Linked DNA regions of Homo sapiens: region 2 is linked to region 1. Evidence: fine-mapped expression QTL. A gene starts in region 1. The other region holds a variant in brackets. All regions are shown on one strand. Distances are between the middles of the regions.

Region 1 (5,376 bases):
GCTGGGATTACAGGCATGAGCCACCGCACCTGGCCATTTCTAGCTTTTGATTTAAAGGAAGAGATATGCAACTCTTCCTTTCACTTGAACACTTAGAGGCCATTGTAGGGTTATAATTTGGCCTAATTTCAATATCGTTGTGTCTCAGGGTATAGGGAAGCCCAAGGAGAGAGAGACAGGGGAATGCTGGTTGGTACAGCAGTCAGAGCATACACATTTATTGGTTAAGTTCACTGTCTTATGTGGGAGTGGTTTGTGGTACTCCCCCAAAATTACAATAGTAATGTCAAAGATAACTGATTACAGATCACTATAATAGATATAATAATAATGAAAACGTTTGAAATATTGCAAGAATTACCCAAATGTTACACACGATCACAAAGTAAGCACATGGTGTTGGAGAAATGGCGCCTATAGAGGCTGGATGCAGGATTGCCACAAACCTTCAATTTGTGAAAAATGCAGTATCTAGAAGTACAATAAAATGAAGCCCCAAAAAACAAGGTATCCCTAGATGGCAGTTTAGACTATGAATGTCCACCGGGCGCAGTGGCTCAAGTCTGTAATCCTAGCACTTTGGGAGGCCGAGGCAGGCCGAGCACTTGAGGCCAGGAGTTTGAGACCAGCCTGGCCAACATAGCAACACCCCGTCTTTACAAATTATTATTATTATTATTTGAAACAGTTTTGCTCTTGTTGCCCAGGCTGGAGTGCAGTGATATGATCTCAGCTCACTACAACCTCCATCTCCTAGGTTTGAGCAATTCTCCTGCCTCAGCCTCCCAAGTAGCTGGGATTACAGGTGCCCACCACCATGCCCAGCTGATTTTTGTATTTTTAGTAGAGATGGTTTTACCACGTTGGCCAGGCTGGTCTCGAACTCCTGACCTCAAGTGATCCACCCGCCTCGGCCTCCCAAAGTGCTGGGATTACAGGTGTGAGCCACCGTGCCAGGCCTACAATTATTAAAAATACAAAAATTAGCCGGGCATGGTGGCATGTGCCTGTGGTCCCAGCTACTTGGGAAGCTGAGGCAGGAGAATCACTTGAACCTAGAAGGCAGATTGCAGTGAGCTGAGATGGTGCCACTGCACCCCAGCCTGGGTGGCAGAGTGACACTTTGTTTCAAAAAAGAAAAAAAACTATGAAGGTGGAAGTTATTTCCTGGAGGCTGTGTAAACATAGAAGAGAAGGAGATCCAAGGACAGAACTGTTAGAATCCTCCCATTAAGAGGCAGGTTAAGATTCAACAGGGAGGTTAAGTAGGAGGAAATCCATGAGACAATAGTATCCTGGAGATCAAGAGAAGGAAGTTTTGACAAACAGGGTGCTGGGGACCAGTGTGCAGTTTTACACATTAAGGTTCATAATGATGCAGAGTGGTGTTAGTTGGGAAAGAATGGCTTTCCAGACAGGTCCTCATTGTGGAGCATTGCCCATGGTGAATTCTCCATTTGACCAAAGTCTGCCCCCAGAAATTCAAACTTCCCCTTCTGCGAGTGTCACTATCAGAAACAGATTCTTTTTATCCAAGGTCACATAGCCAATTTTAAAAAAAAGGCCAGATGTGGTGGCTCGCTCCTATAATCCCAGCACTTTGGGAGGCCGAGGCGGGTGGATCACTTGAGGCCGGGAGTTCGAGACCAGCCTGGACAACACGGCAAAACCCTGTCTCTACTAAAAATACAAAAAATTATCAGGGTGTGGTGGTGGGCAACTGTAATCCCAGCTACTTGGGAGGCAGAGGCAGGAGAATTGCTTGAACCCAGGAAGTGGAGGTTGCAGTGAGCCGAGATTGTGCCATTGCACTCCAGCCTGGGTGACAGAGTTGAGACTCTGTCTCAAAAAGAAAAAGAAAAAAAAGTTTTTTTTCTTTTTGTAGAGACAGAGATTTGCCATGTTGGCCAGGCTGGTCTTGAACTCCTGAGCTCGAGCGATTTGCCCGCCTTGGCCTCCCAAAGTGCTGGGATTACGAGTGAGCCACTGTGCCCAGCCACAGCCAATTTTCTTGAGGCTGAGTTTCATCATTAAGTGTATGTCTATCAGATTTTAACTCAAGTTCACAAATACATTGATATAGGACATATACTAGAACGTCAGTCAATTTATTAATAAAAATACAACTGTTAAATGCTTCAGTGGCCTAACTACTGCACTCTTCTTTCTCTCTGCAGTTCTGCTTAAGGGAAAGGCAAATTTTCAGTATGTTACTTTGTGAGTATAGAAGGAGAACAAATATGTCGTGGATCTTACAGTTTCTCAGCTAGCCCAGCGTGAGACATTCTTAAGGGATATCTTTGTCAAACAGTTGGCCTGTTGAACCCTTTTATTTTCAATACTTCCTTGGCTGACAAATGCCTTCCTTCGTTTCTCCAAAAGGAGTGCAATATTAACTCTTTTTGTTTTTCTAGTTGCAATTCCAGTGCAATTCTTCCTGTCTGAGATTCTACATCCTGGTTGAGTTTCGATGGTTTCCAAATTCCTTATCCAGGCATTTAGGGTCTTTCAATTGTTCCCCTGCCCCCAGAAATGCATTCATTTTCTGTGGCTTTTTACTAGTTTAACTTTTAGAGGGCAATCTTATTTCCAAGTTTCTGAGGGACACTTTGTTGGAACCAACAAACATTGCGAGTAACTATTCAGATATCAAGTAGAATGAGGATTCAGTAAGAAGCCGCAGGACTTGGCAAATAAAAAGGTCATTGGGGGAGCTCAATGCTAGCAGTTTCGGTAAGCTTGTGGGAGTGGACCCCCTGGGAGTGGACAAATGAATCTGAATTCCTTCGTTAGATATCTAGGAAGTGCTGGACCCTCAGAGTAAAATATAAGTAATTACAGACGAGATCCCTGCCCTGGTGCGGCTTATCTGAGAAGGAAAGGTGACCTAAAGTCACGACAATTGTGTAATGATACAGTTCATGTTGTTGAGGAACTGTACAGGGCTGTGACAGCCTTTAAGAGGTGGCTCTGGCCTAGTGTAGAGGTTTAGGAAGGAAAGGTTCTGAGGCAGAGACGTAGGACTGGAGATGTGAAGGCGTGGCAGAGTGGAGCAAGACTTTTGGCGTGCCCAAAAGACAGCCTGTGTGGCTACAGAGCGGAGAGCGAGGAGAACAGAACTAGGCGAGGATGGGTAAGTGGAAAGAGTAAAATAAAGCTCCTAGAACGAGGGGACCAGAGTGGACAGGAAAGGGCGGGGAGGGGCGGTTCCACTTAGAAACTACAATTCCCAGGAAGCACTCGGCAGCCACAAACGGATGTGAGGTGAGGCAGGAGCGGCGACCTTTGAAGGAAAAAAGGAAGTGTTTGGACGACAGCGAGCGGGAGAAGCGGGGTCAAGTAGGTAGGGGTGCGGTGCGGGAGGGGCAGGCGGGCTCCGGCGTGCGAGGGCCTTGGCCAGCGGAGCGTTTCGCGGCTCCGTGTCGTCATAAGGCGGCGGCCATTTTCGCGGGCGGAGGCGGCCCGGCGGGCCCTGGGAGAGCTGGGACGGGCGGCGGCCGGGTGGCCTCGGCCACCCGCTAATTGCATCTTTTCCCGGCGTCTCGTCTGCAGAGGGAGCACTATGTCTGCGGAAGTCCCCGAGGCAGCCTCCGCGGAGGAGCAGAAGGTGAGCGCGCGGGGCGTGAGCCCTGGGCCCTGCCCAAGGCCGGGTCTGGCGGGCGGCCTGCTCCCGCCAGGCGGAGGGCCGCGCCCGAGATGCGGGGCCGAGGCGCATGAGGCCGAGGCTCCTGCGCCCCACCTTTGGCTTCCCGCCGTCGCTGGCTGGTGCGCCGACGAATTGGGAGTTCCAACGTGCCCCGCGTTTACTCCGAATCGTGCCTTTTGTAACACCTCCGTGGGTCGCGGTGTTCCTCAGTCACTTATATTTACGCGAGAGCCCAGGACGCAGGCTTTGGGCGTAGAGCCTAAGTTTTTCTGTAAGCCTCAATTTGGTTAGGAAGTTTTATTTTTTCCTTTGAAGAACTCTCCAACTACTTGTATTGTGAGCGTGCGGTTCACTCCAAAAGCAGTGCCTCGTGTGCGGGCCGCGATGTGGGCCAGGATTGGCATTTCAGGGCCAACCCTTGTAACCATGGTCAGTGAGTAAAGTCCGGCCTTCAGTGTCTTCACCTGTAAAGGCCGAATACTGGTGCTTGCCTCCCACGGCGGGGTGAGGCCTAGAGGAGGTGAGTCAGGTGTAGTGTGCAGCGCAGTCTGTGCTCAAAAAGGTTTCAGTCGATGGGACTCAAATATGGTACTTGACTAAAAATCGAAAGGGTGGAATTTTAAAATTTTACTCACGAAATTAATCAGGGTTTTATTGGAAACAGGAATATTTTGTAAACGCCCTTGTGTCTTCCTGATGTAGGGGAATAGGCCGGGAGTGTCACTGTGGTTCAAATTATGAATATCAAGCCTTTGTATTTATCTAGGCTGGTGTTTGTCTCTCCCACTGTAATTATTTCCACCGCCCTGCCCTCCTAGGCAGGTGTGACTGGCCGAGAAGTGAGAAAGGGCCGAGGTATCTTGTCTCCTAAATTGTTTATCAACAATTTTTCTTACAAATCAGGTTGTGTTGCCGTTAAATACGATTTTGGTCTACTGCTTGACCTTCGTGCGGGTTTCTGCTTAATGTTGCACTTATGTCCTAATTAAGTTGGGAATTGGATTAGTGTTCTAAGCCCATTCCATATGTTCTTAAAACCGTGTTAACTTTTCTTAAGTTGGGTGCTTCTGTTAGGATGTTAAAGTAATTGAAAAACAAGAAAACATATAGCATAGGTAAAAGTCCAAGTTACCACATTATTTGAGAATATCCCGTGAAAATAGATATATTTACGCATTACCAAAAAAATGGATTTTGGGGGCAAAAATACAAATATTAAAGTTTGCAATCTTAACAGTATTATTAAGTATCACCTGCTTATTGTAAAATGCGTATTGTGTTCATTATTGCTTGAAATTTAGGAGCCCCCAAAAATAACAAGTCCCTGTCTGTGGTGGTTTGCCTTAAACACTTACATCAAACTTAGCATTAACTTCTGGTGCACAGTAGTGTGCTATGTAATTTTCTTTGATAAGTTCTGTTAGTATGTTGCCAAAGTATGCAGTATTGACTTCTAGAGTGTAAATACTTTTACTTGGAAAAGCCTAATGTATCTTTTAACAATATTAAGGATAGCTTGAACGTTTTCTCTTATTGATTGTCTACATTAAACATTTAAGGTGCTTTGGTTTTAGCTGCTGTCATTAAAATCAACCAAAGTGTGTTAGGAATATAATGTTCCTTCTTAAATTGAGGATTGGCTGTAAATGCTAAGTGCCTGTGGCGTGGATGGTGTCCCTAACCATGAAGAAAATGTGCACAGTCACTTCTGTGTTCCTGTGGGCCAAATC
Region 2 (5,376 bases), 61 kb after region 1:
GAGGATCTAGACAAAACCTGTATAGTACAGCTTAGCTGGTTAGATTGAGGATTAGGATGTCTCATTTGAGTTCACAAAAAATCAAAGTGATGGGTACAATTAAATGAAAGTCAGTGACTGTTTCACAAATCTGTAAGACTCATTTGTAATCTGTGCCATTCTATACATTAGACTTAGGTCAGCGGTCCCCAACCTTTTTGGCCCCAGGGACCAGTTTCATGGAAGACAGTTTTTCCACAGACCTGGGGAGCAGGTGTGGCGATGGTGATGGTTGGTTTTGGGGTGAAACTGTTTCACCTTAGATAATCAGGCATTAGTTAGATTCTCATGAGAAGCATGCAACCTAGATCCTTCGCCTGTGCAGTTCATAATAGGGTTCATGCTCCTATGAGAATCTAATGCCACTGCTGATCTGACAGGAGACGGAGCTCAGGTGGTATTGCTCGCTAGCTCACCACTCACCTCCTGCTGTGAGGCCCGGTTCCTAACAGGCCAGGGACTGGTACTGGTCCATAGCCCGGGGATGGGGGACCCTTGACCTAGATTCTTAATATTGTCCTTAAGGTTAAAGATTTCCAAAAATTCTTATTTGATTTATCTGTTGGCTATGTTTAAGAGGATTTTCTAAGATAACTGTCATAGTGGTGAAATTTAATAGATCTGAATGAGTAGAGGCTAAATTAATTATTTTAAAATGTATATATTGGTGAAATAGATGGAGTAGTTTATTATACATGATTCCAGCTTGAAAATGGCTTCAGTGGGGCAGCAGTTAAAGTTTTCTAAGTTTGAAATTGCGTAGATTTGAGTATATTCAGAATGTGTGGGCTGTATGTAGGAAAACAGAGTCTCAGCCAGAGTACTGGAACTGCTTCTGTGAATGGTTTTCATTTTAGTCCGCTTAATTCCTTAAGTAGCCAGTTGTCCTTTGGTTTTCATTCTTCACTGCCATAGCAGTGACATCAGATGCAGCTGGAGCTGAAAGTAGAAGGGTTATGTTAATTAATTCTAGTGAAACAAAAACTGCCTCAAATAATTAATGGAATAATAGTCTCATTAAAAGACCTTAGAGCTTTTTTGTGCTCTTTTTTTTTTTCTCCAAGAGATTAGAGAAGGAGAATGGCACAGATTGTTCACTTGAGACCTTTTTAAGCTATTGATCCATCTTAAGTCCTCATCTGATGCCTCTGATTTCAACGTGAATCATTCAGGCCATGTAGTGATTTTCTCTTATTTCCTCTTGAGGCTGCTCTCTCTTTGCCTTTGGTGACAGTTTTCAAGAGAGCAGTGCCTGATCTTTGGCTTGTCAGAATCTAAAAATGGCCCCTATTTTATTGGCTTATTTACAGCTGTCATATTTTAGTTTAAATACAGTTGACCTAGCAAGCAAACATTTGTGTGTTACAAGTATGGGACAAATCCCAGGTGGGGTTGTCTGCCAGGTTATTGGAGGGAGAGAAGAGGCTTATATGTTCCCATCACTGTTTTCTTCATTAATCATGCTGTCTGTCAGCTGATCATGCTGTCATGGAGTTTTTTTGTTTTTGTTTTTCTTCCAAATAGTTAAAGAAAGATGCATTATTAAACAGAGATTAGCCAGAGTTGGGAAAAACAGGTAGAGAGACAAGTAGGAAGATCCTTTCTTATATGTGATCATCTTGGTTTTCCAACCCAATATGAGGATGCTGCCTTTGAGTAAACTAAAAAAGAGTTTAATCTGGCCAGGTGCTAGGTCTAATGCCTGTAATCCCAACACTTTGGGAGGCTGAAGCAAGTGGATTGCTTGAGCCCAGGAGTTCAATCCAAGCCAGGGCAACATGGTGAGACTCCGTCTCTACAAAAAATTAAAATATTAGCTGGGTGTGGTGGCACATGCCCATAGTCCCAGTTACTCAGGAGGCTGAGGTAGGAAGATCACTTGAGCCCGAGAGGTTGAGGCTGCAGTGAGCCACGATCAAACCATTGCACTCCAGCCTGGGTGATAGAGCAAGACTCTGTCTCAAAAAAAAAAAAATTACAAAAAAAGTTGAATCCACTTCCAATTTTAATAACACATGAGAAGAGAATAGGAGAAAATAACGTATAACATACGGCTTACGTTTTTTTTGGTAGATAAGAAGGTACGGATTTCATTGTATTGTTGAAAATATGCAAGGATCTTATGTATGTTCAGGAGCTAAATTTCTGGGAACATAATAATAAAGAGGTAAAGAAAAAGACAGTAAAAGAAAAAGGGAAGCATAAAAACCTAAAATAAAAAGCTAAGTACAGTAGTTTGAGACTAGAGATTTGGGTATAATTAACCACATGTGTGTTACCAGCTATGTGTGGAGTAAACAGGGTTAATGTTTTGGCAGGGGGTGGGGGTGAGGC[G/A]GGGAATAATAGCCCAATAATTCAGGGAACCAATGGTATGCCTACAAGTAATCTTGGCCAGTGTGCTATGGAGGTAGCAAACTCACAGTAGATGAAACAAAGGAGGGATTTAGAACACATAGGACTAATATAGATGTATATTTATGTTTCTACTTTTGTTGTTTGTACATTGTGTGTTGTGATGCCTTTTTTGGTGGTTTGTTTTGTCAGGTTAGTTCTACTTTTTTTTTTTTTCCTTATAAAACCCTAACAATGTTTGTTGTAATTTTATCAAAGTTTTCATAAAACTAGCTACAAAATCCACTTGGATTATCTGATTCTAAGTTTTTGAAAGATATGATTGAAACAGCTTTGCCATTTTAGGACTTGTGTGAACCAGAAATACTATGAAAAGAAAATAGAGAAAGACAATTTACAATTTATAAACAAGAGTTAAACTTTACAAATTTGAATGATTAAATAACAAATACATAAAATGAATAAGAAACACCAAGGAGAACAAATAAAATAACAAACAGTAACGTAATATGGTTAAGGGCATCATCTCTAGAGTTAGGTTGAGCTTCTCCTTGTGTGACCATAAGCAAGTTAGTGAATGTACTTTCCTGATAGGGCAGTTGAGAGATTAGATACATACATATATATGTAAAGCCCAGTACTTGGCATATCATAATAGAGTCCCTTAATGTTAACTCTTAGGTAGCATTATTGGCTTGTCTATTTTAAATAATTTATAAAAATCTATTTTCTTATTTTAAAAAAGTGGTAGCCCTAGATAGATCTCTAGTTATTACACTTTTTTTTTTTTTTTTTGGGGACAGGGTCTCATTCTGTTGCTCAGGCTAGAGTGTAGTGGTGGGATCATGGCTCACTGCAGCCTCGACCTCTCAGGCTCAAGTGATCCTCCCACTTCGGCTGGGACTACAGGTGCATGCCACTATGCCCTGCTGATTTTTGTATTTTTTTGTAGAGTTGGGGTTTTGCCATGTTGCTCAGGCTGGTCTGCTCCTAGGCTAAAGTGATCCTCCTGCCTTGGCCTCCCAAAGTGCTGGGATTACAGGTGTGAGTCCCTGTACCAGGCCCTTATCACACTCTTAAAGCTTCTGGAACGTTTTAGGACATCAGCTATGTACACTATTAAAATTTTCCCTTCATTCTAGTTAGGATTTGGCTATGGATACTCTTTCGATTGTAATCTGTCTACAACTCAGCAATGTCAGCACCATCTGACAAAGCTGTAACTTTCATTCCAGTCCCTTTTTAATGTTTCCATCATCAACATTCTTAACCAGTTTTCTGCTGGAAAGGAGAACTGTATTCTAAACGAGGGCTTTTAAAGGTACTGCACCCAGTTGTAATTAACTAGCATAATTAGCATTTTATGTGTAATATAGACATGTGTCATAAACTGTTGCTTGAATCCTAAAGTCAGTTCCAAACCCATTTCTCCTTCTGTTATAGAGGTTCGAAGACAAATATGCCTTTTTCTAACTTCCCTTGCAGTTAGGGCCAGCTGTGTGATTTAGTTCTGGCTAATGTGATATAACCAGAAATCTTCTGGAAGACCTCTACAGGGGGAAAAAAAAGTAGCTTCTCTCATAAAAGGAATAGAAACATTTGTTTGTATATATACTCTCTTTCTTCCATCCTTAAGTATGTAATGTGATATATGGAGTCTTTGGCAGCCAAATTGTAATCATAAGGTGACAAGCCTCAGAATGAAAAGTTAACAAGCTAAGAAGGTAGAGCAGAAAGACAGAATCTGAATTCTTTTTTTTATTTTGAGACAGCGTTTCATTCTATAGCCCAGGCTGGAGTGCAGTGGCACAATCTCGGCTCACTGCCACCTCCCCCTCTCGGGTTCAAGTGATTGTCACACCTCAGCCACCTGTGTATCTGGGATTACAGGTGCAGGCAACCACGCCGGCTAATTTTGTATTTTTAGTAGAGTCAGGGTTTCACCATGTTGGCCAGGCTGGTGTTGAACTCCTGACCTCAAGAGATCCGCCCTCCTTGTCCTCCCAAATTGCTGGATTACAAGCATGAGCCACTGCATCTGGCCAAGGGACTGAATTTTTTTTTTTTTTTTTTGAGAAAGGGTCTCACTCTGTTGCCCAGGCTGGAGTACAATGGCGCGATCTCGGCTAACTGTAACCTCCACTTCCCAGGTTCAAGTGATTCCCACGCCTCAGCCACCTGAGTAGCTGGGATTACAGGTGTGTGCCACCACGCCCAGCTAATTTTCATTTTATTATTATTATTTTTTTGAGACAGAGTCTCGCTCTGTCACCCAGGCTGGAGTGCAGCGGCGCAGTCTTGGCTTACTGCAAGCTCAGCCTCCCGGGTTCACGTCATTCTCCTGCCTCAGCCTCCCAAGTAGGTGGGACTACAGGTGCCTGCCACCATGCCCGGCTAATTTTTTGTATTTTTAGTAGAGACGGGGTTTCACTGCGTTAGCCAAGATGGTCTCGATCTCCTGACCTCGTGATCTGCCTGCCTCGGCCTCCTAAAGTGCTGGGATTACAGGCATGAGCCACAGCGCCCGGCCTAATTTTCATATTTTTTTAGTAGAGAGAGGGTTTTGCCATATTGGCCAGGCTGGTCTCGAACTCCTGACCTCAAGATATCTGCCCTCCTCAGCCTCCCAAAGTGATGGGATTACAGGTATGAGCCACTGCGCCCAGCCAAGAGTCTGAAAAATTTTTTTTTTAATCTTTCAAGCTTTTATTTAAATGCCATGATCCAGGATGGATTTTAGATCTTGTTGAAAGCAGCCACATCCATGGGCTGCACATAGTCCTCAAACGCAGTGATCTGCTCCTCCAGCATATCTGTTCCAACTTTATCATCCTCAACTACACACTGTATTTGAAGTTTCTTAATTCTGTATCCCACTGGAACTAGTTTAGATGAGTCCCAGACTAAGACGTCTGCTTGAATGCTTCTGACGCCCTCTAATTTCGCCATATCTGTCTCATCATCCCAAGATTTCACATCTAATAA

Which allele goes with the higher level. Alleles are on the strand shown, and positions count from the first base shown. SD is a standard deviation of normalised expression in the study named.
With allele A in place of G in region 2, the expression in lymphoblastoid cells of the gene that starts at base 3,425 in region 1 is higher (moderate effect, 0.47 SD a copy in GEUVADIS).

The links. PIP is the estimated chance that this variant, and not a neighbour inherited with it, causes the effect.
Region 2: its variant is the best candidate, but not a certain one, in a credible set for the expression of ARPP19 in lymphoblastoid cells (GEUVADIS, PIP 0.81).

The regions. Positions count from the first base shown.
Region 1 is chr15:52,567,079-52,572,454 of GRCh38, reverse strand. ARPP19 (cAMP regulated phosphoprotein 19) reads left to right here and starts at 3,425. Exons shown (of 3, transcript NM_006628.6): 1 at 3,425-3,607. The coding sequence starts at 3,563. RefSeq lists enhancers at 2,896-3,025, 3,079-3,825, 3,826-4,574 and silencers at 3,496-3,555, 3,626-3,725.
Region 2 is chr15:52,505,615-52,510,990 of GRCh38, reverse strand. All of the region lies in intron 1 of MYO5A (myosin VA), which reads left to right. It also overlaps the pseudogene EEF1B2P1. Among named protein-coding and RNA genes, the nearest start is that of MYO5A, 21 kb to the left of the region's middle. The variant G/A (reference allele first, on the strand shown) is at 2,374.